2 separate regions of the Homo sapiens genome follow, and region 1 is linked to region 2. Evidence: fine-mapped expression QTL. A gene starts in region 2. The other region holds a variant in brackets. All regions are shown on one strand. Distances are from middle to middle.

Region 1 (13,600 bases), 79 kb before region 2:
AAGCTAAGGGGTACTCCTGGCCTGATACCGCTGACCCTGGGTGATGAGGCCTTCTCTTTGCTGATGTCCTTAACCCTCCCTGCTCCCTGGGTATCACGCACTGGGAATTGTGATGGGAGACTGTTCAGAAACATTTAAGAACTCAGCAAACTTGTAGCTATGATCAACGAATAAGGCTAGAAGCTAGAGTGGTATCTGCAATCCACATGGCTCAAATCCCATATTGAGAGTTGCATCAATCCTGCCTGCATTCGAGGGTTCTCAGGGCACCCTGTTTCTTGCTGCCAGCAGGGGTTCCTATGCTGGCCACTGTCTACAGGAGTGAGAGTTTGTTCCCACTCGCTGTGTGCTTCCCCTAACTGCAGGGGCTGGAAGCCTGGGAACTACATTTCCCAGCATCCCTGTCCATAGCGCTTTGGAAGTAGTTGAGATCTGACCAGTGATAGCTGGGACGGGCAGGTGGGCGAGGCAAGAGCCTTCCTTCCTCTGGCAGTGGTAGAAGCTGCTGTGTAGCTGCCCCAGAATCTGGACTCCAGAACCTGCCTTCTTCTACCTCCAGGCAGCGGGGCAGCTGCAGATTCTGCCCTGACTTCCTGAAGCTTCGTGGCCTGTGGGCCTCAACCTGAAGCATTGCAGCCCAAACCCTGGAGGTCCCCCATTCTCACTGCCCTTCCAAGAACTTCATAAGCACCTGGATCCCCGAATCAAATCCTCACGCTTCAAGCTGCTGCCTCACTTCAGTCCACAGATGTGGAAGCTGAGCTCAGAAACGGGAAGTGACTTTTCCAAGGATACACAGGAAAAGTGCACCAGGGCTAAAGAAAACCAGATGCCCAAGTCCCAAGACCCGCTTGACTCCTTAGAAAAAACCTGCTGTATTCTACAGGGTGGCTACCCCGGAGTAGGTGTTCTTCCCATTCCCAGGGGCAGGATCTTAGGAGGTGTCATGGGCTGCAACTGAAAAGAGAGGGTGGAGCTTTGGGGGGGATAGAAGGTCGGGAGTTGGTTTAGCTGCTGCCACAAGGGGTGGGGGGCTGTTTGCGGTGACCCCCAGGAAGTTACATGGGCTGCTGAGCCTCAAGTTCCTCATCCATAAAGCGGGGGTTAAAAACCATCCCTACTTGAGGTGACTGCACAGAGCAGTAATGTGTCAACACTGAGGACACCTACCATCACCTTTGTCTTTTCTATACTGTGTTCTAAGCACAATACCGGTGCACATTGGCTGGGCCCACAACAAGCTCCCGATGAAGGTACTGGGTATCATCTCCAGCTTTCAGAGCTGGGACAGAGGCCCACAGTGGTCAAGCCACCTACCCAAGGCCCTCGGCCGGTAGGTGTAAAGTCAGGATTACGGCCAATGCAGAATCCCAACTTCACACCTACTGGTGTGAAGTGGATGGTGCCAGGCTGAGGTCGGCCCCTGCCCTGGGCCTCCTTGCTGTCTGAGCTGTGGAAGAGGAACCAGCCTATCCCCACTCCATGGTGGCACTGTGAGCACTGAGTGGGCTTTGTGTGTGGCGCAGCTCAGGGCCTGGCAGGGGCGAGTGTGAGCCCTCCCTTCCCTTGTTTTGTTTTCTCCTTCCAGCTGGGCTCCACCCGCTCTGAGTCACCCCTGAAGCTGACAGCTGTGCTCTCATGGCCGAGCCAGGCCTGGACCCACTCAACGCCGCTCTCCTCCCCTGGGTCAGGAAGGATCAGCCGTGAGGGGAGCCAGACCCGTTTCCCTCCAGAAAACATCATCCAAGAGAAACAGGGCCACAGTGAGGTGAGGCCTGAGAGGAGGTCCTGGCCACTGCAAGGTAAACAGGTGATGACAAGCTCCCTGTCAATGGCAGGACTGGGGTGGACATTTCTCTCCTTATGTCGATTAAAAAAATCAGTCTCGAATGAAGCCAGCCAGCCAGCAACTGTGCTGCCCTGAGGCTCCCTGCGCCTCCCAGGAGAGGAGAGAACACCCACCCCCAACCCCAGGGACAGCAGCCACGGAGCACAGCGTGACTTGGGCCACTTCAGAAGCCGAGGCCAGTCAGCTCCTCATCTGTAAAATGCAACAATGATCCCAGCCCCTGCTCACCTAGACTTGGCTAATTGAACAAATTAATGACTATTGGTTAGTCCTGAGAGTCACTTTCTTACTTCTTTTTTATTGAGACGGAGTCTCGCTCTGTTGCCCAGGCTGGAGTGCAGTGGTGTCATCTTGGCTCACCATAACTTCTGCCTCCCGGATTCAAGCGATTCTCCTGCCTCAGCCTCTCGAGTAGCTGGGACTACAGATGTGCACCATGCCTGGTTCATTTTTGTATTTTTAGTAGGGACGGGGTTTTACTATGTTGGCCAGGCTGGTCTCGAACTCCTGACCTCGTGATCTGCCCACCTTGGCCTCCCAAAGTGCTGGGATTACAGGCATGAGCTACCACACCGTACAATCATGTTACTAATAATCTTGAATATTTAACACATATTGGAAACAATACTATTGGTATATATATATATATATAGTGCTTAGAACAATTCCTGACCATCACAAAAGAATATTTAACATTAACATTAACATTAGGAAAATGTCACCTACCCAGGATCATCATTCCTCTGAGAAATTCAGAACTGCATATGTGTGTGTGTGGATAATGGCTAGTGGGGTTGAAAATGAAGAAGAAATGGCATGTGTGAGTTTCACACCTACTACATGCAGACCCTTTACATACAGCATCTCACTTTGTCTTGGCAACATCTCTGACTTGGACACTGCCAAGCCCCTTTGTGGATTCTCGCTCTTGCTTTCATTCTTTCATTTGACAATTACTCACTGGGCTCCGGCCATCTAGCAGTTGCTGTCAAGTGCTGAACAAAACAAAAGTTAGACAAAGTAGAATGGCTGGGTGTGGTGGCTCATGCCTGTAATCCCAGCACTTTGGGAGGCTAAGGAGGGTGGATAACTTGAGGTAAGGAGTTCAAGACCAGCCCAGACAACATGGTGAAACCCTATCTATAAAAATACAAAAAAATTAGCTGGGTGTGGTGGCGGATGCCTGTAGTCCCAGCTACTCAGGAGGCTGAGGCAGGAGAATTGCTTGAACCCGGGAGGCAGAGGTTGCAGTGAGCCGAGATTGCACCACTGCATTCTAGCCTGGGCAACAGAGCGAGACTCTGTCGAAAAAAAAAAAAAGGAGAGAGAAAGTAGAATGATCTTCGTCCTTGCTCACTGAAAGCAACATCACAGGGTGGGACAGAGGCTGAGATTATTAAGGAATCACACAAAAGACCAGCTGTGATGGTTAGATTTAATGTATCAGCAGGCATGTGGCTTGCCCCTGTCATCCCAGCTATGTGGAGGCTGAGGCAGGAGGATCACTTGAGTCCAGGAATTCAAGGCTGCAATGAGCTATGATCATACTCCAGCCTGGGGGAGCGAGACTTATCTCTAAGTAAATAAATAAATGTAATGAGCCAGCTTGGCTAGGCCATGGAGTCCAGTAGTTTGGTCAGACACTCGTCTAGGTATTTCAGGGAAGGTAGCATGCAGATGTGGTTAAGCTCTCCAATCAGTTAACTTTAAGTAAAGGAGATGAATGCAGGTGGGCCTCATCCAATAGGTTGAAGGCCTTAAGGGCAAAAACTGAGGTTCCCTGGAAAAGAAGAAATTCTGCCTTAAGATTGTAACAGAGAAGTCAAGTCCTGCCTGAGATTTCAGCCCTCTGGCCTGCCCACCAGGTTTTGAACCTGGCAGCCTCCACAACTGCCTGAACCAGTTCCGAAAGTTGAATCTCTTAATATGCATACACAAATATGGGATAGGCTCTGCTCCCCTGGAGAGCCCTGACTGGCAGCCTTCAGTGCCACGAGCAGAGGGCGTAAGAGGGACTGGCTGATGTCTGGGGGAAGTGGTAGTGACTGAGGGTCCACAGGGTGGACAGGTGATTGGGCAGGGAGTGTGAGAGCCTCCCAGGCAGGGGAAGCTACAGGTATGAAGGCCTGTGGGGACAGTAGGTGAGTCCAACGAACTGAAAGAAAACAAAGTCAAGTGGATTGGAAGACTGCAGCGGCACTGGCAGACAGGGGGGGCCAGGCAAGGTCTGGTGGCCCCCCTAAAGTCTGGACAACCTCCTGGGAGCCACAGGAAGCCCTGGAGGAAGGCCAGAGGGAGAGAGGGAACTGGGGACAGGCAGTGACTGCCTTGGCGCCCTCCCTGTGGGACAGCCAAGGGCTGATGGTCCCTTGCTCCTGTCAAATGACCCCATCCACACATTAGCTGTGTCCTGGGGGTCTCAGTAAGTCTATGTCCTCTTGTCCCTTCAGCCCTAGGGTTGGAAACAGTCCCACCATTTCCAGCCCCAGGGACTGCACCACACTTGCTGTTTCCTACACCACACTATGACCTTGTGAATGACCTTTCAACTCAGCTCCCCTCCACTGCCCACTTTGAATGCACCATTTGTGTCCTGCCAGCACCATGACCAGTCCAGGTGACCCCGCAGACCTAACTCCAAGGGGCACAGCTGACAATGTGGTCTAAGCAATGAGTGCCCCAGGAGCTGTGCCCCACAGAAAGCCATGCCTCCCGCCCCTCCCCGGACACCCCTCTGAGGCGCTGGCCACCTCAGAGGATTTGCAAGAAGCACGTGGGTCAGCTGGATGCCCTGAGCCCTGGCCTCCCCTCCACCTTGGGTAGCTGCTCTCGCTAGAATCTGCCCAAACTCTGCTCCAACTGCTGCTGGGGCACTCACCCATCGGGAGATTTCATCCTCAGGCTCATGACACTGATAGGGTCTTTGGCAGGGATGGCACCAGGGGATCCCTTGCACCACTCAGCCAAGTTCAACACATTCCAGGTCCCACCAGGGGGACACTCCAAGAAGCCTGTCCCCCAAGCTCCCTGATGACAGCATCAGTCCCTCCCATAGAAATGTAGTCAACACCAGTAGAGCCAGAGGGCAAGGTCCCCTTAGCCCGCCCATGGCTGCTCCAATCAGCGCCTGTGGCTTGACCACCGCCCACTCCTGGGCCCCTCTTGGAGTTTGATCTGCTGGGTCCTCTCCTGTTGTTCTCTGACTCCTGCCGGGCTTAAATATCAAAGAATCCTCATTGTTTGATAAGCCTGCAGACAAAAGCCCATGGAATATCTCTAACTAGATCTAGTGGCCTCTGGTCTGCCCCTCCTTCTCTCCAACTCACTCCCTCCCCAACTTATCTGTGCATGCCTGACCCATCCATAGCTAATACATTTCTTGTGTGTGGATGCCTGGCGAAAGTCCCCAGGGGCTCTTCGGGCAGGCATTTGCTCTTTGGGCAGAGAAGGAAGTTGGGCTTTGAGAGACTACGCAGTATTTTAGGGACTAGCTAAAGTGCAGTTCCAGGTCCTATGAGGGAGGTGACACCATAATCCCATTTTACAGAAGGGGATGCTGAGGCCCTTGGGTATCAGTGGCTTACTCCAGGTCACATGGCTAGGAAGGGGTGAGGGCCGATTCCTGAGCCTGCTCTTCCATGCTCCACTGCCGTACCTCACCCAGGTACCCAAGCATGCCTGCGATGCTTCAAGAACACAGCTGGCGGCATGCGTATCTTCACTGCTAGATAGCGAAGCCGCACACTAGGCCGGCTCCAGGATCTAGCCCAGGGCAGTTCACACGCATAAATCTGCTCAGGAGGAACCAGTGCCTCCCAAGACATGATGCCAAGGGCCTTAGTGATCCACAAGTGGCAGGTGAATGACAACCAAAGGGAGAGGGAAGGCTGTGTAAGGCAGGTGGCCATGGAGACAGGGGGCATAGCACTGATGGAGGAGGGCAGAGGGGGAGGGTAAACCAGGCCTGTGCCCAAAAAAGCACATGGTGGTGATGATGGAGACGCTGGTATGTTACAGAAAACAGGGCGCCCTTCAGAGGGGCTGCTGTGGGTGGAGCTGGATCGTGGAAGTCCTGAGGAACGTGGACTTGGGGACTGAAGGCAAAGGGGAGCCCGGCTGGCTTGTGAGCAGCAGACAGTAGTGATTGCAACTGGCACATCGTGGCTGGACTGGAGAGGGGTGCACAGGACACCCTGTGGGAGTCTAGAGAGTGGCCCGGTCTCCATGAGCATGACTTGGGAAGTCCGTTTCCTTTGGAGCCTGTTTCCCTGCTCCTTTCTGCATCGGCGCCTGCCCATTTGCCCCACAGCCCAGCAGTGCCAGCAGGTTGGGAGAACCCTTCGATGTGCTTGCAAATCTTCCTCTTTGCACCTTAGTGCCTCCTGCTTGTTCCTTTGCTGGGGAAGTCGGGGAAAAAAAAGATTCTGCTGAAGCACAAATAGTGGCTCAGAGTAGGCAGTGTGGAGAAGTGCCCCAGAGAAACACGATTAACCAGGATTAGGGTCACATGAGAAGGAGGCGAATATGTTTTCATATTCATAGCCTCACAAAAAGAATTTAAATCCACAAATCTTCTTATGTGTGTGGATCGAGGAGTGCTACATTTGGAGTCCTAGGATAGCCAAATGACATTAGAAGCGTGTAACGTGGCTGGGAATTCCAGGGGTTGCACTATGCGCGCACCCAGGCTCACACCTGTCCCAGAAGAAAGGATTTCCCCCCATTTGGGTGGTGCTGGAGGCTGATAAAGAAGAGACAATTCAGAGCTCCTAATGCCCCTTACACCTGCCCTCAGGCATCTGTCGCTGGTTCTAAAACCCTCAGCATAAAGGAAGGGCTGGAGGTGTGGCCGCTCTGGAGCCGAGATTCACAGTCTGACACGTGGCTTAAAGAGGCCCCTTTCTCCCTAGTCCGTGACTTCACGGAAATATTTTAATGCTACTGATTTTCAGGGGCATCCAGGAGGTGCCTGAAGGAGCTGAGGGGCAGCCTCTAGCAGTGTCCCTAATGGGGATTAAGATCACGTTATAAACCCAGCTACTACAATGGCGAGGCATGCAGCACCCTCCAGGGTTCCGGGATGGGTGGGAGCGTCAGGCGACAGCAGGCATTTCGCATGAACCATCCCATCCCTACACACTGAAGGTTGGAGGGGTGTCACGGTGTCCAGTTGGATCACAGGATTAAACTGCCCTGGCCCAGGCTCAGCCCCACCCCCATACCTGGGCCCCAGAGGAGAGGAAGAGTAGCTCTCATCAGAAAGGGCCCAGCAGTCAGGAAAGGAGGGAGACCTTGCCCTCTTGACCAGGGGCTGCCAAGCTGTCCAGTGGGAGGAGCGAAAACATGGGTGGCCGGAGCATATGGGCAAGGATCGGCACCACGGGGTCAGGGCATGCTCAGAGCAGCTGAGGCCTGGCAGCCCTGGTGAGGCTCGGGATGGACGATACGAGGGGACACTGGGCAGCTTGGACCAGCAGAGGCCCAGCAAGCAGGTGGGAGAACAGAGGCCAGTTCTGACCAGGAGGCATTCCCAGAGCCTGTCCCTGGGGGTCAGGAGGCGTGGACCATGGAGAGACTGAGATACTAGTATTGATGTCTCCCCAAGTGCACCCCCAGCTCATGAGTCCTGGAGATGGCTGGGGAAGAAAGCACTGGGTCCTGTCCCTAAAGTGCACCAACTCTGTGCCAGGCTCCAAGTCAGCACTTCTCTTAGGTTGCTTGTTTGACCTCAACAGCTTTACCAAGGGGTGGTATGTTCTCTTTCAAAGTGAAGAAATGGGGCCAGGCGTGGTGGCTCAAGCCTGTAATCCTAGCACTTTGGGAGGCTGCAGCAGGTGGATCACTTGAGGTCAGGATTTCCGAGACCAGCCTGGCCAACATGGTGAAACCCTGTCTTTACTGAAAATACAAAAATTATCTGGGCGTAGTGGCATGTGCCTGTAATCCCAGATACTGGGGAGGCTGAGGCATGAGAATTGCTTGAACCTGGGAGGTGGAGGTTGTAGTGAGCTGAGATCGCACCACTGCACTCCAGCCTGGGTGACAGAGCAAAACTCTGTCTCAAAAAAATAAGATAAAAGGTGATCCAAACAGCCCGGCTCCAGAGGCCCAGCTCTTCATGCTAAGAATCTACCTTTCGGCCTCAGCTGGTCTCTCTGGATGGCGCCCATACCCCACCTCGGGGAGCGTCCATGCGGCAGGGGGAGTTCACCTCCACTCAGCCCTACTCTGCCCACTCTCCCCACAAAGTGATCACGAGTGCTCCTCACCCTCCGTCCAATAAGGAGGCGACTCTGGCAGGAGAGATAAACTGAGCTACGCCGAATGAC[C/T]GCTGGGAATGGCCAAACACCCTCATGGCCAGAGGTGCTAGAGACAGCTCTGTCCCAGCTCTGTCTGAGCTGGCCACCAGGTAGGCATCCAACACTGGGAGTGTGCCTCCCATCCCACACTGCAGTCCTTTCCGGGACCTCCCAGGGGTGGGAGGACTGGACGCACTGTCCCCAGCTGATCATTAGAAGGCCTCCCACATAGGGAACACAGCATTTTAAAAACATCTTGTTCTGCTCAACTTTAAAACACACAAGTCTCATTTTATCTCCTCCCACAATGCAGTGATAAGAGGTGGGCCTTGCCAAGGCTGGCTGTACTGCTTGGGTCTTGGAGAGAAACGAAGACTGGAAGGGCAGGAGGTCTAGGGACGGCGATGGCAGAATGTGCCCAGCACTGGCTAGAGACCGCCATCTGAATTCCAGCTGTAATGCTTGGCCAGCTGGCTGAGCATCCTGGGGTGGGTGGAGGGTGCACATGAGTTTGCATGTGGGGGATGCTGTGTATAAGCCTCAGCTCCCTTCAGATGTACAGAATGGGGCAGGAGGAAGAAACATGATCTAAAGAAAAACCACCCTGACTGGGCGTGGTGGCTCATGCCTGTAATCCCAACATTTTGGGAGACCCAGGCAGGTGGACCACAAGGTCAGGAGTTTGAGACCGGCCTGGCCAATATGGCGAAATCCTGTCTCCACTAGAAATATAAAAAATTAGCCAGGCATGGTGGCATGTGCCTGTAGTCCCAGCTACTCGGGAGGCTAAGGCAGGAGAATCACTTGAACCTGGGAGGTGGAGGTTGCAGTGAGCTGAGATCACGCCACTGCACTCCAGCCTGGGCGACAGAGCAAGACTCTGTATCAGGAAAAAAAAAAAAAAAGAGAGAGAGAGGCCACCCTAGCTATTTTCTCTTGCCTCTCTGGGGTTCTGACTCTTTTCACCTTCTTCTCTCTCCTTCTCCCCTAAATGACCAACACCACCCTTTATCCAGGAAGACGCTGGCAGGCACATTTTGCAAGCATGTCTGAGTGTGTGTGTGTTATGCACTAGAGCTACAAAGCAAACATTAATAGCTTCTCAGTGAAGAAAAGGGATAATCAAAAACCTAGAAGGATAAATTATTAGGAAGAATTTGCTGTTTCTTATTAACGCAGAGAATAAGCACAGGGTCTTCAGATTCAATTTCTATTTACAAGACCCCACAATATGCCTGGGAAGCAATGTTCTCCCTATTTTGCAGGTAAGACATGCAGGCTGAGAGAATAAGAGCCTTCTGATACACTGTGCCCTGGAATCTGTTCCAAGATTCTCATTCCTATTTGTTGACTGAGGCTCAGCTTCTGAAAGTATGGACTGAGTTATCATTCCCCTTCAAACTCAGAAGAGTTCCCTCTGAGCTCAGGCTTTGTGCACAAAAAGCAGTGAGATCTTTCCCACTTTACAACACTCCTGACCCAGGAATCTCATGTCTTCTGCCAGGATCCATGAAACACTAACAGGCTAACTTGTTAGTAGCAGCAGGATAAAAGCAAATCCCAGACCTTGCAGCCTCTCCTGGCCTCTTCCATGCTATTTTCTGCTTATGCCCCTACCTACCTGAAGCCTCCAGTGGGTTCTCTGCACACCCACAATGCAATCCAAGGCTCTCACCAAGGCCTGCAAGATCCTACATGAACTGGTCCCTGCCTACTCTCTGATTCCATTTTCCACGACTTTTCCTTGCTCACTCCAGCTCAGCCTCCATGCTGTCCCTCAAGCAGGCCAAGCACAGGACCTACACACAGCCTATCTGCTCTGCCCAGAATGCTCTTCCCACAGGTAGTAAGGTCATTCCTTTACTCAATTCAGGGTGCTGGGTCACATGGCAAATCCTTGCAGCAACTGTCCCTGAACCATGATGTGTATCGGCCTCTGCGTTTTTCCTCTATTCTTTTTTTTTTTTTTTTTTTTTTTGAGACAGAGTCTCGCTCTGTCACCCAGGCTGGAGTGCAGTGGCACGACCTTGGCTCACTGCAACCTTCACCTCCTGGGTTCAAGCAATTTTCCTGCTTCAGCCTCCTGAGTAGCTGGGACTACAGGTGTGTGCCACCACGCCCAGCTAATTTTTTGTGTTTTTAGTAGAGATGGGGTTTCACTATATTAGCCAGGATGGTCTCCATCTCCTGACCTGGTGATCCGCCTGCCTCAGCCTCCCAAAGTGCTGGGATTACAGGCATGAGCCACCGTGCCCAGCCTCCTCTATTCTTTTCCACACACATGACTAACTGGCATTGCATACTTAATACATAGCTGAAAGGATTCCCCGTGCAACTAAGTTTCTTGAACTCAAGGGCTTTCTTAGTTCACTACTGTGTTCCCAGACGAGTGACCCTACACTCTCTTTCACAGTCACCTGGAAAGTAGGCATTATCCCCATCTTATAGAAGAGGAAACTGAGGCTGAGAAGTTCAGCCATTGCAATTTACCCAATTTCGCACTTAATTTCGCACTTAAATTGTTAGACGTAGGATTCAAATCCAGACATGTGCAATGCTAATGCATTGTTTGGAGACACTTCTCCATGAGTTTCTTGCATTCCTACACATCTTGCTGGGTAGACAAAGAATGCAAGGCTCTGACTGCTCTGTACCTGGGTTGGGTTTGCAGCAACCAATCCTGAGACATGAGGTAATGTTTCTCTCTGAGACAAAAAGCTGGCTTGCTTGCTGTCTGCCACAAGATGGTGGATACCCCAAGCTCGGTGTTCCTGTCCTATATCGTAACCCATAGCATGTGTGGCATCTATATGGGCGTTCTGCCTGCTCGTCATGACACTTAGTGGGTGAAGGGGAGCAGACACAAAAGCTCATGCTGCTTTTGAACTGCGAATAATAAAGTCAAGAACTTTCTGGAGTTTAACCAAATAGAGAAAGTGGTCAGGTTGCGCCTGAACTGCTGTGGAGGGCACACGCTGTGTCTTATTTAGTCTTAGTAATCTCGGTATGTGCCCCTGGCCCCAGGCCCTCATAAGCACTTGTTTAATTGACAGACGGACAGATGGATAACCCAGTAGTGCTGAATGATGATGGGCTTGCTGGTCAACCACTGAGCTGCCTGCTCCTTGGAGGGAGGCTACAGGGCTGGGCTCCGAGTCACACAGCGCAGGAGTTTTTTGAGCCTTTCTTAAGAGAACCCTTCAGGAGCTTACAGGCCAGAAATCAGATAAAATTGCATCCTGAGTATTATTTTTCCAGCTGAGTAAGATGCAGTTAATGGAAGGCTTAATACATACTTCTGAGCCCTGCGGAAAGAGAGACATTCTGCTGCTTCTGGAAATGAGTTTCTGGTTCTGCAGCCACAGGTCTCAGGTGAAGGAGAGGTGAGAATGGGCTGAAGCTCCAGTCTATATGTGCAAGACAGGATCACCAAGGTACTGCCCTTCCTTCCTAGGACATCTCTTTGCTAAGAGCCAGAGGTCTACAAAATCAAAGGGGAGCTGACAGAAGCCCCGTCCCCATGCCTGGCTACTACCTGCCTTAGAAGCAAAGGTTGTAGCATTTCCAGATCACAGAGGAACACACAGATGACCACACCTTTCTGTTCCATTTTCAGAGTCTCCAGGAGGGGGCGTGACTTGCCCAAGGTTGTACACTGGCTGAGGTGGCACTAAGATGAGACCACAGCACCTGAGGAGACACCTGGCCCTGCTGTGGAGCCCAGGGTTCTGGTTCCTAGAGCGCCTGGAGCCTCGGAGCAACTTTCCTGAGACGGGGACCAGGGCCTCTCTCGGCCATAATGGGCTCAATCCTGAACTCAGGTATGCTGATGCTCTGGGATTGTCCAGGCCACGGCACCCAAGGGGGATGGGGCTGTTTTTCCCAAATACCACCCCTCTTCCGAGTTCTTGGCCCCAGGAGCCCTTCTTTTTTAACAACTCACAAATCTATGTGAGCAAAATAAAAACAGAAAACAAAGTCAGAGAGAACCTGGGGTCCCTAACTTCTCAGCACGTCTCTTCCAGCACACCCAGCCCCATGAACTGCTCCCCCAGGCTGGTGCCAATACCACCCTGTGATGAAGGAGGGACCTGAGCCCGCACACAGGGGCCTGAGCCTAATGGCTGTGCCAAGACAGAGGTCTGTCAGCCACTGCACCCCTACCTGGGCCCTGTCTGCCTGCTGCACCTCCCTCCCTGAGCTCAGCACAAGGTCAGCAGTGTAGTTGCCAAAACTGTTTCTTCTGCTATTTCTGTGGTTTTTGAATCCGGATTCCTGCCCTGCCTGGAAAGACGGGCCTGACACAGTGGACTGCAGTGTGCTGTGAACTCACAGCCTTAGTTAAAGAAGGCATTTTGAGAACACATGCAAAGCAAGAAGACAAAACCATTGCAAACTTCACCAAACACAGAAATTGTGCAAAGAGGATTAAGGACTAAGACAAGTAGTTTCCTATTAGAGATACACCTTTCTTCTCTCCCATGCAATTTTGTTGGAATTTTTTTTTTTTTTTTTTTTTTTTTTTTTTGTGAGACGGAGTCTCGCTCTTTTGCCCAGGCTGGAGTGCACGGGCGCAATCTCGGCTAACTGCAACCTCCGTGCCTCCTGGGTTCAAGCAATTCTCCTGCCTCAGCCTCCCGAGTAGCTGGGATTACAGGAGCCCGCCACCATGCCTGGCTAATTTTTGTATTTTTAGTAGAGATAGGGTTTCACCATGTTGGCCAGGCTGGTCTTGAACTCCGGACCTCAGGTGATCCGCCTGCCTCGGCCTCCCAATGTGCTAGGATTACAGGCATGAACCACCATGCCCAGCGGATTTTTCTTGCTACACAACCCCCACCCCACTGCCACATTCCTGCAGACACTTGGAGGTAACTAAGGAAGGGATACTAGAGGTGAGCAGCCACTGTGATGGTAGTGGGGTATGGGAGCAAACACCCAGAGAATCAAACTCAAAGAGCGGGATGTTACACCAAGCACACTCCCTGCCCCAGGGCCTTTGCACCTGCTGTTCCCTCTACCAAAACTGTTCCTACCCCAGAATCCATATGGCTTGCTCACTCACTGCATTCACGTTTCTGTCCAAATGCCTTCCTTGGAGAAGCCTTCCCTGGTCACCCTAAAATCGCTGTCTCTGCCACTTGTTCTGTGGCATTCCCCTTCACAGCCTTCATCAGGAACTGGCGCTCGACAGTGGACTGAATGTCTGTCCCTCTGTCTTCCCCCGCCAGAAGGCAGGCAGTTCATCCGACTCCCTGACTGCTGTGTGCCTGCTGGGAGCAGTGGTAGGCCCTCAATGAGTACATGTGGACTGCAGGGACAGTGAGCTGTGAAACAGCAAAGCGCTCAGCACTCAGGGAGCAAAGATTCATTTTGATTTGTGCCTCCCAAGAGGTGGGGGTGTGGTTGTTTCTGGGCCTCAGTGTCCTTATCTGGAAAATGGGATGATTAT
Region 2 (14,059 bases):
CAAAAGTCACTTGTAACCCTCTTTTTAATTCTGCCAAATAATTTGGAGCTAATGTTCTTTTCTTCTCAACTTTTCTGAATTATTGCAAGTAATTTTTAAGTCATATTTTATACTCCATTAAGGGCTTTAGAATCATACATGATTACATAGGATTTGTTTAATAAAAATTATAGAAGGCCATTGTTTTGGACTAAGTTTCCGCACTAGGCCCCAACAGGGCCGGCTGAGAATCAAAATGGAGTTACCCACGCTAAAGTTCCAGGTCCCCAAATCCAAACTGAGGCGGGATAGGTAGTCAAAAAGGGAGCCATGTCCTCGAGATGTGGCAACCGTGGCATGGCGACCACAGGGTCAACACGATAAGCGCCAGCATTCACACTGTAGTCCAGTTCACTCAAGCCAAACTAGCTCCAGTAAGGAATTTCCCCCGTAAGAGGGTGCACATTTTGATTTTACCTGTCCTCAGACTGAACCTTTGCTCATTATAATAGTAAAAAACACACTCCCGGGTGGAGATTTCAGATGTTAATGAGACATGTAACATACAAGCAAGCAGGTACAGCTGCTGCACATGTGCACCCCGAAGACCACCCAGAACATGCTTACTGCTAGCGCCTCTTCCTGCCTCCTTATGAATAACCGTGTAAGGCTGTCATCAAGGGAGTCTCCCCAGTAAGTCAATGCTGTCCCATCCTCACGAGCAGCCCGCCCTGAATCCTGTCTCAGAGTGTACTGTCTATTCTGCACGTCACTTTCAGAATATCCTGCCTCTTTTGCAACAAATCGCTCCATGCTGCATCTCCTTTGCTGTGTGTCTCTTGTTTAATTTCTTTTAAACTAAGGAGACAAGAACCGAGGTTTTACAACAGCCATCGACAAAACTAAGTTGTCATCTGACTTCCTGAGAAATCAAGAGAGAGTCAATTTCTCAAATAAGCAGGATTAAATTGTCAACTGGTATGATCATGAAGTTCTCTCGGCTTTAATCCTTAGCACAAAAAAAGGCAGCCTAAAGTAACCGGATGTTAACTAATCAGTTATTTTTCTAGTGTTCTCTCTAAATGTAATGAGTACACACTTTGTTGCTTCTGGTTTCTTCAGTCCTGTTTATAAAGCCAACCTCCTCTGCTCAGCTCACTGGAAAACCTATTCTGTTTGTTTTGTGGAACGAAGTGTTGCTCAATTCTAGAATCACAATAAAGCCAATTTAGGTCTTTAAATTTCTTGTCATTCTCTCCTTTGGCACTTTCATGTGTTTTAAAGAGAAAATACACACACACACACACACACACACACACACACACAGAGTCAGAAGAAATGAAACAAACATCGTCAGAATAACTGGAAGAAAGAAACTTTTAACCTACAAATATTCAAACCATATTATTTGAATGCTGAATAGGTTAAAAGGCCATGTTGAAGTACCACTCACACCCACACCGCCCTGTCTAAATCTTGACCTTCTCAGGAATCAAAACTAACATTTGTTGAGAGACCTTTACTGAATAAACTTGTTTAGTTTTCACATCAACTGTACAAAGTGTGCCTTCATGATAGAAGAGGAAGCTGAGACATAGAAAAGGTCAGTAATTTGATCACTAAGTAATAAACCTCCAATTGAAACCCAGGCAAACCTTAACACTTAAACTATTCTGCTTCTCATTAAGATGCTACTGATAACAATTGAAGGTCTTCATAATGTCTTACAATGGATCTTCTTACTTTACTAGGGCTGATAAGACACAATGGGTTAAAATGTGGGCTCCCACCAGCTGTGTGGCCTTAGGCAAGGGGGTTACCCTCCAGTTCCTGGGCATCTTACCTGCCAACTGGTAATCTTGTGACTACTCCTCCCCACCCCCAGCTGTTGCAGATTCAAATGAGATAACAGCTCTGTGTGCCTGTGTGTGTGTGTGTGTGTGTGTGTGTGTGTGTGTGTGTGTGTCTCCTCCAGGCCTGCTCCTAATCCACCTCCACCTTGTCCTGCCCTGGGGGGCTCCATCAGGGAGCTCCCTGCCTTTGGCTGCTGGGTGGGCTCAGCTCTTGGTGCCACAGAGTTGCAGAGGGCAGGACAGAGGAGAGCAAGGTTGCAGGGTTGATCCGCCTGGCTCCTCTCCTGCCAAGTTGAGGAGGGGGCCTTGTGGTCTCTCTCTTCCAGAGGCTTCTGGCAACTATTGCGATGCTCTCCTGGTTCCCCTAGCCCTTCCCCTACCGTGCCACTTCTTCTGGGGGTGGTAAATGGGCCCAGGTGCTACAGCATCCCCTGCTGACTTCTCTGAATGTGGGCACCATCTCTGGAAGCACATCTTTATTCAGACCCTCCATTCAATGCTTCCTGCTGAACCCCAGAATGATAAGATGTTCAAAATACTTGGCACTACTGGGTGTACATTAAACTATAAAAAGTAGATGCTACTAAAATTCTTATCAATAAGGCAGGTTCCTGTGCTTCATTTTGTGGGGTCCTCCTAACTCTCCTGTAACAGAGGGAGTGGGAATTTATACTACCATCTCCCAGGTGAGGAAACGAAGGGTCAAAGAGGTTAAACAACGTGCCCAAGGTCCCCGGCCCGGAGCAGATGGGCCAGGGCCAGGGCCAGGGCCCAGGAGTTCTGTGTCCTTGGCCAGTGGTTTCCCTGCAGGGATTCCCCTGACTCTGTAGAAAACACCTCAACTCCAGAGCCCTCTCTAACAGTTGTCCCAGGTGGGAACCACAATAGCGTCCACTGCAGGTGCCTTGAACTTTGACACAAATCCCATCCCTGCTGGCCAGCCAGGCCACATAGGAAGGGCTCCCTCCAGGTGGCTTATGATGCTGGGCACCCCGACCATCTTATGCTGCCCCCCACCTCCCCTGTGTGTCTCTGCTCCTGGTAACAGTGCTTTGGGTGGCTTCTTAGGCCAGGGTTCTGGCTAACTAGTAATGCTGTGTCCTGCCCTAGGGACAAAGAAGCCAAAAGTTTGACACAACCCATAGGAATGAGAGGAGCATGCTCCCCCAACACAGTCATTAGGCCTTACTGCTTCCAGGCGGATCATTCACAAACCATTTTACCTTAAAATCAGCCTCCTCCTACTTCAAGTGCTTTTCCAGGAGTTTTCCAAAACTTCCTGCCTTCAGTCAACTCCTCTGTCTCCCGTAGGCTCTGTCTTGAGGAATGCGATCACTTTCTCTTATAAACAGACTTAATGCAACTGGAATCAAGGAGGCTCTGGGACTCCCGCATGCACAACTCTCCCAAGAATCCTCTCCCTTAATCCTCCTGGGGGCCCTGCATCCCCCGCATTGCAGGGGGTGATCACCCACATGCACCTCAAACCTGGCTCACGGAAATGCAGGGACTTGCTCCAGCTCACTCAGCCGGCCTGGATAGTAGCGTCCCCCTGAAAACCTGGGCGCTTTCTCCTACCTGCCACCTGCCATGCCACCCTCCCAAATCAGCTATGAAAATCTGAGATAAAGTATACGGATGAGCATTAAAAATAAAGCACTAAGTTTTATTTTATTTTTTTAAAAAGGCAAATGCAAAGCAGCCACTCTCTGTTTTATACACGGGCATTCCAATGCTTGGAGGCTCTCATGGTGTAGGAACTTGCAGGCTGGCTGCAAGGCAACCATTCCTCTCACACAAACAAACCAGAGATCAGGACCTAAGGAGGGAAATGGGGCCAAAGCACTGAACCTCTAAAATTCCCAATTCCCTTACCTCTTCAGAACCATGTGGAACAGGCTTACAGCCAATCTTTTATTTTACTTTATTATTATGATTATTATTATTTTGCACACACAGGGCACATGATGCTTTGATATTGAATGTATTCAGGAAGATATCTTTGCTCTCTTGCAGTCTGACTCATCCATCTCTAGAACACCCTTCTGTGGGTCTCTCAAGGTGGAGGGAACCTTTCCCTTCTCCGTTCCCATTTTGCTTAGCACCTGTGTATTTATATACGCAGCCTGACAGGGTATGTCCTTGTCCCCCTCCCCACAGCACTGTGACCTCTGGGACAGCAAGGAACAAGGACCGAGTAGTCTTTCCTCTCTGCATCTCCGCACTTTGCATGGTGCTCCTGGAAGGTAATAAGTTCCCAGTAAATGTTGGCTCAACTGAAATCAAAACAACCCAACCACCACCAATAACAAGACCAAATAAACAATAAAACCCCAGATTTTACAGTCCAGTGACTTCCCCTCTGAGCCTCAATATTTTTACATTAAAGTGAAAGGGCTGACCAAAGTGATTTCTAAGGTCATGTTCAGCTTGTGGATGGGAAGCAAAACAGGCCCTGGTGAGATCACTGGGGTTCCTTCTGCAATATGTACCATTTGGGAGTCCCCACAGATGGCACCCTGGCTCTGTCAGGTTTCAGACCTCAGAGTCTGAAACTTCTGGGACTGCTTTCAAAATCTAGCGTTGAGAACTGCTAGAAAATGACTTTGCCAAGCGGGTGTGGGCTCCGAATGGTCCTGGCCACTCTTTGAGAGGGGAGATGCCCTTGGCATGGGGTAGTAGACAGTCCAGCTGCCCCAAGCCAGGGTTGTCTGTGATACCGGGAGGGTTTTGAGGATGATGCTGGCTGAAGCAAACATAAATCAGGTGGTGGCTGTCTTCACAAAGAGAAGCTTTTAATGGACCCTCAGTGACGGGCAGCAGAACTCTAAAGCCTTGCTCTCTTTTTTTTTTTTTTTTGAGACAGTCTCACTCTGTCGCCGAGACTGGAGTGCCATGGCACGATCTCAGCTCACTGCAATCTCCACCTCCCGGGTCCAAGTGATTCTCCTGCCTCAGCCTCCTGAGTAGCTGGGTACTACAGGAGCCCACCACTATGCCCGGCTAATTTTTGTATTTTCAGTAGAGGCAGGGTTTCACCACATTGGCCAGCTGGTCTCAAACTCCTGACCTCAAATGATCCACCCACCTCGGCCTCCCAAAGTGCTGGGATTACAGGCCTGAGCCACTGTGCCCAGCCAAGCCTCTTATTTTGAGAGTGAAACTGAGACCCAGAGCCTGGAATAGTTTGGGAGCCAAGTTGCAAAGTAACTGAGCGCTGCCACTGGGACTCAAATGCAGGCTCTCACAGGGCCCCGGTCTGGGCTCCTGTGACCAAATTAGAGCAGAAGAGAGCTCTCAGCTCCTCAGGTGTGCCAGCAGGGATGCTGAAGTTTCCACAAAGTCTACACAACGGAACGAAGCTGCATCTAAGTCTTATTCTAGAATTCTTTGTGACCGGGCCAGCTCTTCCATCAGCCTGTGGAGTGTATGCACACAGGCATGCAGAACTCACTGGAAAGCTTTTACAAGATGGCTGGTGGATTTTATTTTTTGCTTTCCTGGTCGCTTTTGGTGGTGTGGGAGGGGCCTAGAGTGAGGGTTAATGTTTAGATCCCTGGCCAAAGCTCTACCCAAATATAAACCCTTTGAGTCAGCAACCTTCTACACAGGAACTGACTCAAGCAAGGTTACCTGACCAGAAGCCTCAGAGTCACACATGGGAGAGGGCCCTTCCTTGGGTAATGTCAACTGCCTGCCTTTGGGTGGTGTCCTGGCTCGGGGGCTGCTTGGTGGGGAGGGGAGACAGAGATCTACCTCACCCCCAAAGACCCAGGACCTAGAAGGACTCCTTCCTGTCAAGCTCACAGACGACTTCATCCCCATAAGAAGGGCTTCCAGATCAGCGACAGCCAATGCTGTGAGCGCCACCAGGGAAGGGGGGCAGTACAGCCCTGATTACAATCAGCAAGAAGGCTGCTCAGAAGGCAGTTTCCGCCTGCTGCTGCAGAGCTTCGAGGAACAGACTCCACACTCCCTAAGAAACCCTCCTCTGCCATCACTTCTAGCAACGCTTCCTGTTTTTCTCTCTCACCCTGGGTGGGGTGCTGTGGCCTCCCAGCCAGGGAGGTAGGCAACAAAGGCCCTGCTCAAGCCCAGGTCCTGGCCTTGTCCAATCAGACTCTAAACAGCAAATGCCGGCCCAGAAAAATGCAGGGAAAGCAAACTTCAGGGTTTGTGGGATTTTGAAAAGGCAAGAGGAGAAGGAGCCCTCTATTCATTCTTTATTTAGCAAAAAGTGTACGATGGAACTTTTTTCCCTAGACCTGAAGTCAAGGTATACACATACACACATGTAGAGTATGAACTACCTATACATACACACATTCACTTAATTATATGTATTATCGCCACTCGCAATTATGCAGAACGTATTTTGGAGAATGTATTATTGGCCTCATTTTGCAGATATAGAAACTGAGACGCCGAGAGGTTAAGTCTGGCGACCAAAGAGAGACAGAGACAGAGAGACGGGAGACTAGAAGAGGCCCCACGCTGTACCCAGATATTGGCAGAGGCTGAGGGGCACGGAGTGGTGAACTCTAGTCAGTCATTTCAGCCAACCATGGGATTTCAGAAAACAGCCGGCAGGGGTCCTAATGTTTGGGGCAGGAAGGGGAGGTGCGGGAAGGCACTGAGGGACCCCCGCACTGGGCGCCCCTTCCCCACCGCAGAGACAAGCGGCAGTTTCCACAGCAGCCGGCAGGGGGCAGTGCACCTTGCCTTTTCGAAGCCTCTGGGCGCTTGGGCAGCGCGGGGTAAAGAAAATCAGGAGGCTCCGCCCGCAGCTTCTACGAACAGGCCAGGAGTAGAGCCCCCGCACGTAGTAGGTGCTCCAGGCACGTCTAGAAGCCTAAAGGGCTTGGTCGATACATTTGAACTCCATTTTAGAGACTGGAAGGGAAGAAGGGGGCGTCCGGGCCCCTGCCAGCACCTTCCACCTTGGGGCCTTGTCAATGAACACTGCGTTAGCACCTACGACGTGCCAGGCGCCCTGGCGACTATTGGAAAACCCGGCTCCCCTCTCACCCCGTTTTCCTCGTTGGCGAGTCGGCCTCGCCTCCTCCTCCCGTCTCTTCCTCTCACCACACACACCCAGCCGCAGAGCGGGGGTGGGCGCTCGCTGTCTCCCTGGAGAACCAGCTCGTCGCAAACTTGCGGGGCTTGGGGACCCGCGAGGGGGAGAAGTCGGGAGAGGCCAGGGGTGCCCGGAAACAATCACGAGAAAGCCGGGCGAATGCCTGATGCAGGGACGCGGCGAGCCAGTCACTGCCCTCAGGGTCACGGCTGACTCCCTCTGCGGGACTCGCCCAGCCCGCGAGACGCAGTGACCTGCCCAACCCCCACCCCCTTGCGCGCTTCTGGGTGCGCACGTGTCCCCTCGCCCAACACACCACCGAGCCCCGCGCATGGTACGGCCGCCGAGGACCCTAGCGTAGGAGGGAGGAGCGAGTCAGGGCTCCAGCTGACGAGCAGAGCCAGACGATCCCCACACGCTTCCTGGGAGACCCGGCTGCAAGGCCAGGCTAATGCGCGCTCCGACGTCTCTGTGCCAAGCCGGGGCGCAAGCTCAACCCCCATCTCAAGTTCAGCCGCGCTTCCTCCCGCAAGGTCACGCTTAAACACTCGCGCAGAGAAAGGAGGAGCGGAAAGTTGCGCCACCGTCCCGATTCCAAACTAACTGTACCCTCACCAGAGCGCCTCGCCCCAGGGTCACCGCTGTCCGTCCCCGTGCGCTCCCAGAAGGGGTGGCCCTGCCCCCACGCAGGTCACACACACGAGAGACACAGGCAAGTTGCTAACTTTTGTCAGATTATTTCTTGGGAGCTGCGACGCCTCACGGGGTTGGGGCGGATTCAGAGTTTCGAGTTGCCACTAACACGACTCCGGCCGTGCTCTCCTTGGCCCACCCGCGTCCCCCACTGTCCGCCACGCCGCGTTCAGCTCTCTTGTCCCGGGTGTCAACTTCACCCCCAGATCCGGAGCAGCGCGCTCTGACGGCGTCCCCGGGGCCGATAGCCACCTCCCGGATCTGCGCCTGCTTGCAGCGGATTGGGGGACTCGATCCGGATACTGTCCCACGGCCGCTCGTCCAGAACACTGGCGGCCTCCGCGGTGTCCCAGCCTGTGACCCCAAATCCGCTCGAGAGCGCCTGAGCCCGGCCACCCAGCGAGGTCTCCTCCCACGGGCGGCCCCAGCGGAGGAGATCCCAGCCCGGCGCCGGGTGCAATGTCACTGGGGCTGCTTTCGGGAACCGCTGCCCGGGACTTGGCGTAGGTTCCCCACAGAGCTCCAGGCAGCTCCTCCAGTGTCGGCCGAAGACCCCTAAGCCCGAACCTCCACCCCGACCTTCTTCCTCTCCCAAAGCCCTGGGTGGTCGCCGCTGCCAAGGAAGGGGTCTCCCTTCGAATGTCTTCCACTAGAATCCCGGGGTCTTCAGTCCCAGCTCCACTGTCACACCCTCCTAGTCCCCTCCCCACCCCTTCAGTTCCCGGGTCCAGACAATCAACCTTCCACTCCGAGAATCCACAGGAAACTGCCCGAGCCCCAACTCAGGCGGACGCAGCCCCCGCGCACCCCGAGCAGGGTTCGCCTCCGCGCGCGCACTCACCACGGCTGGAGACACGCTGGAGTTTCCGGGATTTGGGCATGAAGGGGTTCGGAGGAGAATACAGGGGTGTGGGTGTCCCGGACACTTGCCCCCTTCCCAGCTCACATCGCCTCTTCCTTCTCTCTCCGCTCTTCTTCCTCCTCCTCCTCCCTCCGGTCTAGGGCTCTTTGTCTTTGCAAAGTGTCGAAACTGTCTGGCATAGTGGGCTCCGCCGGCGGAGGCTGGAGCCGAGGAAGCGAGGAGGCGGGATGAGGGTGGGAGAGGGCTCGGGAACACCTTCCCCCGGGTGTAACGGGAGTGAAAGGCGGGGCGACCGAGGAGGGGCCGCCTTCCCTGGCCGGCCGGGGCCGGGTGCCAGGGCGCGCCAGAGCCCAGCCACCGCCTCCCCTGCGCGCGGCCCTCCCCTTCCTCCGCCCAGTGCCCGCCCCTCCCGACTCTGCGCCTCCGTTCGGCCCCGCCCACCCCAACTTGGCTCGGCTTTCCCTTGGCTCCGGGCTTCCTGCAAGCCGAATTTAGCTCTGCCAAGCCACGTGGACCGCAGCGGGCTCGGCAGAGGCCGAGCCTGGGAGACGCCGGAGGCGGCGGCTGCGGCGCGGGGACCTGATCGGCGCCCCGAGAGGAGCTCCCCGCTCTCTGGACGCGGCCCTCAAGCTGGCGGGGCTAAGGAAGAGCGCCCGGGAGGCCCGGGAGCCACTGGGGTCCGTTTCAGCAGGAAGACGGGCACGCACCGAGAGGATGGCAGTGCCCAGAAGAACTCGAGTCGGGGGCACGGTGGGGAGAAGGGGCCGATCCCCTGCTGGCGACCGGGCAGAGCCACCCACTTCCTCTAAGGGCGCGGGACTCGAGGTGGGATTTAGGGAGGGGGAAGGGAGGAGCGTGGGCTGGACGACTCTTGCGGCCAGAACCGCGTTCAGAGCCACAGAGCCGGGCACTGCGGCCGGCCCTGGTCCCGGCCCCGGCCCTGGCCCAGCCCTTGCCCTGGCTCGCCTGCCGCCGCTTTTTCCTTCCAGATGCGGAGGCTGCGGCTGGAGCTTGGGGTTTGCGGATTAGGCTTGCAGTTATTCAGCCCTCCCTCTTTTACAGGGAAGCGGGGGCGGTGGAGACTTCTTTTGCTGAAAGGCAGAGTGCAGCGCTTTGATGCTAAATGCAGTACACAAGTCATGTAAATCTGGTTTTACGGTTCTTAACCCCTTACTGAGACTACCTCTTTCGCAACTTTTCGGAGGAATGTTAGAGGAAAGAGGCACAGTTTGCCTTTGGGGTCATTGCATCCTTCCAGCGCCCCTTGCTCCAGCTGGAGAGAGATCAACCTTTTGCAGTGGAAGGGGAGAGTCCCCCAGCCTTTGTTTCATCAGACGGCTGCTGTAGTACAGGGATTCAGGCCAGGGCCCGCATGGCCGGACTTCTTGGTTCAAATCCTGCACTGCCACTCAACGGATGTGTGAGCTTGGGCTAGTGACTGAACCTCCCAGCCTAGGTGACTCTGTGCCTCGGTGTCCTCATCTGTGAGAACCGACCTAAGAAGTGTCTGTCTGATAAAGCTGTTGTGATGAGTTAGTGAATTCGTACACATAGAACCTTTAGAACTGTCTTTGACATGTAGTAAGTCAGCTGTGTAGATGGTGGGTTTCTCCAGTGTCAGGTCCCTGCCCACAGCAGGAAGATGACCTGTGCTAGAAGATGGGGGCTAGGGTGTTGGGGAAGACTTCAGGGACTTGGGAGAGAAAAGGAGAAATATTCAGAGATGAGAAAAGTAGAAGAAAAACCAGCTTTTAAAAGGGGGAGGAGAGAGAATGAGAAAAATAACTACTAGAAAGGGAAGGAAAAGATGAATAGCCTTTTAGGTACTTCGGGACCTGCTCTGAGACCTCTTGCCTGACGCCCTTGGTTTTTGATAGAATTCTAGAGAAGGGGTGAGCCCTTTTGTCTGCCTGGACACATCCTGTGGGCTTTCCTCTTTCTGAAACTCAGGTCAAGGTGTTCACTGCATCTCCAGATTGCTTGTGTGCATGGGAGGAGGGGGGCAGAGAGTTCTGCTTACATCGGCTACTGTCCCCTCCACCAGCAGCGTCTTCCAGCAAAGAAGAGCTTCTAACATGCACCAGACTTTTAGCTTTGGCTGGGAATATCGTCTGGGCCAATAAAGAGTTTTTGGATGAAATAACAAAAGTGTTGTTTATTGTATGGATCAAATAATGTATGGGAACATATTCGAAAAATAGAAAATGCTATACTCATATAAGACTATGCTACTATATCCTAGTAGATTCTGTGGAAAGAGGATCAGATTTGGCAAGTAAGGAGCCCCAGGTCATCCAGCTGTTGCACTTTGCAGCCAAGAACCAAAAGCAGCTCAGTTTTAGCTGAGTTCTTACTGTATGTATTCCACGTGCAATACTGGCAGTGCAGTAGTTTTGTTTATACCAGCATCACCACAAACATGTGAGTAATGCATTGAGTTGATGTTCTGATCACTAGGCACAGGAGTTTTTCAGCTACATTAATATATTGTGAGACCACTGTCTTACATGCATGTGGTCCATCATTGACCAAAATGTTATCCAATGCATGACTATATATGTGAATAGTGTAGATTGTATGGGTTCTGCCAAACAGTTCTGCTAACGCAAATCCCACCAAGATTCTCAGGGTTGGAGGGAGGCTTCAGGACCATGTCTTGGAAGTTCCCCTGGATGACTCCATAGTGAGATGGAAATTCCTTATTAATTGACATTGTGGTGAAACACACATAAATCACCACCTTATTTGAATAAAACATTGTACATCAGATGCATCTTTAGTTCATCTCTGAAGGGTTAACCTGGGCAAGGCCTTTTCTGAAAGCCCCACTTTCTTTCTGTTAAGTTTCTTCCCAGGTAACAGGGACAGCCTCTCCCTCTCCCTTTTTTTCCAGAGTTTTGACATTCCATGCAAGTAGCTCTCTTAACACCCCCTTTTAGGACCCTTGCCAGGGGCTGTGTGTCAGAAGTGTGTGCATGCATTCCTCTTTGTCACCCTGAGTGTATGTCCCATCACATCCTGCCAGAGAACAAGGATCATAGTCATTACTGGGAGTGTCTTCACAGTGGGTCTCCAGGGAGCGCTGACATTGATTTACTGCATGCTGCCACCTCCTACCTTTTGGAGCACCAGCAAAGCTCTCAGTAATGATGGTTAAGGAAATTGATTTCATCCTTTCCCTACCCCCGTTTCTTGGCACAGCAGAGTGGAAAGATCCTAATGGGTTCTGGTCCCATTTGGGTGATTGTGCAGAAAAGAAAAGGGCTGCACCACTTGTCAGAGATGAGTTCAGAGGTGCTGGGCACAGCACATGGTGTTTTGTGTTTTAGACAGTGTTTTCCTTAGGGCTCTTGGGACTGTGAGGAACTCACTCAAGTTTCTTTAGAAAAAAGAGTTTTAATGTAGAGATGTGCAGACTGAAGCTGAAAACAAGCTGCAAGGAGAGAGAGCCCATCTCTGTGTTTCTGTCTCCCTCCCGACCCCCACCGCTGCCCCCCCTCCCCCTCTCCGCTCTGTTCTCTCTCTGCCCACAGGCTTTCTCTGTTAAATCCTGGGGTCTGTTCTAAAGTTTTCTGCATGTTTATGGCCTCAGCCTTTCTGCATCCTGGCAATTGTGGAAATAATCTTTTCAGCTTCACTTCCCACTGTGGTTCCACCAGGTGTTTTAGTTTTTCCAGGAGAGGAATCTGACTGACAGGCCTCATCTACAGAGTCATGAATCACCAATCCAATACTGGATGGACTGCCCAGGCAGCCTGAGCTCATCCCATGAATGACTGTGCAGAAGGACAGTCCTCCAGGAGATGATGCATTAGAGGGAGTGTAGGAGACATGGTCCTGACTCTGAGAATCTTGGCAGGCATTTGAGTTAGTAAACTATTTGGCAGAACCCAGCCACACTTCTCACATGTACAGTCGTTCACTGAGTAATGACGTTTTGGTCAAAAAAGGAATGCGTATATGAGAGTGGTCCCCTCTGATGACACTGATAAATTCCTGTCACCTAGTGGTGTAGCTGGCATAACATCAACTCCGTGCATTACTCATGTGTTTGTGGCGATGCTGGTATAAACAAACTTACTGCACTACCAGTATGGCACATACAATATGTACAGTATATAATACTTGATAATGATAATAAACAGCTATGTAACAGGCTTATATATTTACTGTACTATACTTTAAATCATTTTAGAGTGTGCTTCTTCTGCTTATAAAACCAAGAGTTTACTGTAAAACAGTATTCTGTGTCATACCGGCAGTAGCCTCATTCATCTCATTTTTTTCGATTGCATCATTTTCTCTTGTGCTTGATTTAATCTCATGCTGTTTTGTTCCTCACGGTCCCTAAGCGTACAGAATCCATGGCTAATGTTGCCAAAGAGAAGCCACATTGAGTGATTGTATTAGTCCATGATCACACTGCTAAGAAAGACATGCCTGAGACTGGGTAGTTTACAAAGGAAAGAGGTTTAATGGACTCACAGTTCAGCATGGCTTGGGAGGCCTCAGGAAACATACAGTCACCACCAAAGGGGAAGTAAACACATCCTTCTTAACAAGGCAGCAGGGCCGGGCGCGGTGGCTCACACCTATAATCCCAGCACTTTGGGAGGCCGAGGCGGGTGGATCAGGAGGTCAGGAGATCGAGACCATCCGGGCTAACACGGTGAAACCCCGTCTCTACTAAAAAATACAAAAAATTAGCTGGGCGCAGTGGCAGGCGCCTGTAGTCCCAGCTATTCGGGAGGCTGAGGCAGGAGAATGGTGTGAACCCGGGAGGCGGAGCTTGCAGTGAGCCGAGATCGCGCCACTGCACTCCAACCTGGGTGACAGAGTGAGACTCCATCTCAAAAAAACAAAAAACAAAAAAAAAAAACAAAAAAAAAAAACAAAAAAAAAAAAACAAGGCAGCAGGAGAGAGAAGAATGAGTGCCCAGTGAAGGGAGAAGCCCCTTATAAAACCATCAGATCTTGTGAGAACTCACTATCATGAGAATAGGATGGAGGAAACTGCCCCCATGATTCAATTATCTCCACCTGGTCCTTCCCACGACACATGGGGATTATGGGAACTACAAGTCAAGATGAGATTTGGGTGGGGACACAACCAAACCATATCAGTGATTGAGCTGGAAATGAAATTAAAAGTGATTAAAGACCACGGAGGTGGAAAATTGGTGATGGTTATTGCTCCCCAGGCAGGTAGGTCGCATTCGATCATAGCTACAATCTTGGGGAAGAAGAACAAAGTGACAGAAGTTGAAACTATCTGCATCATTGGAGGCAATGAGACTATCAACAATTTAAGAAGGGTCTATACCAGATACAGAGAAATTTCTTATGACCCGGATTGAAGACTAGACTGACACACACATGTATTCCACCCAGCCCCACGATGATCCCAGCCAAAACAGAAAGTTTGTGATGCTGAAAGAAAAGGCTGGATTTGACTAGGATGTTGAATTTACTGCTAGCTCTGCGTGGTTTAAAGGACTCAGGAATCGTTCTTTATTATGTAATATGAAAGTGAGTGGTAAGTCTGTGAGTGCTGATGTGAAGGCAGCTGAAGAATTTTTGGAAACTGTAGATAAG

What was found.
Region 1: its variant is fine-mapped to the expression of ST3GAL1 in whole blood (TOPMed, PIP 0.99).

Annotation. Positions count from the first base shown.
Region 1 is chr8:133,484,811-133,498,410 of GRCh38, forward strand. The region is part of intron 3 of ST3GAL1 (ST3 beta-galactoside alpha-2,3-sialyltransferase 1); the gene reads right to left. Among named protein-coding and RNA genes, the nearest start is that of ST3GAL1-DT, 79 kb to the right of the region's middle. RefSeq lists enhancers at 3,671-4,454, 5,932-6,477, 12,298-12,517. The variant C/T (reference allele first, on the strand shown) is at 8,179.
Region 2 is chr8:133,563,250-133,577,308 of GRCh38, forward strand. ST3GAL1 (ST3 beta-galactoside alpha-2,3-sialyltransferase 1) reads right to left here and starts at 8,638. Exons shown (of 10, transcript NM_173344.3): 1 at 8,444-8,638. It overlaps ST3GAL1-DT (ST3GAL1 divergent transcript), which reads left to right and starts at 7,323. Exons shown (of 2, transcript NR_186509.1): 1 at 7,323-7,621; 2 at 7,809-10,607. RefSeq lists enhancers at 6,398-6,467, 6,425-7,278, 6,638-6,857 and silencers at 8,648-9,137, 9,328-9,387.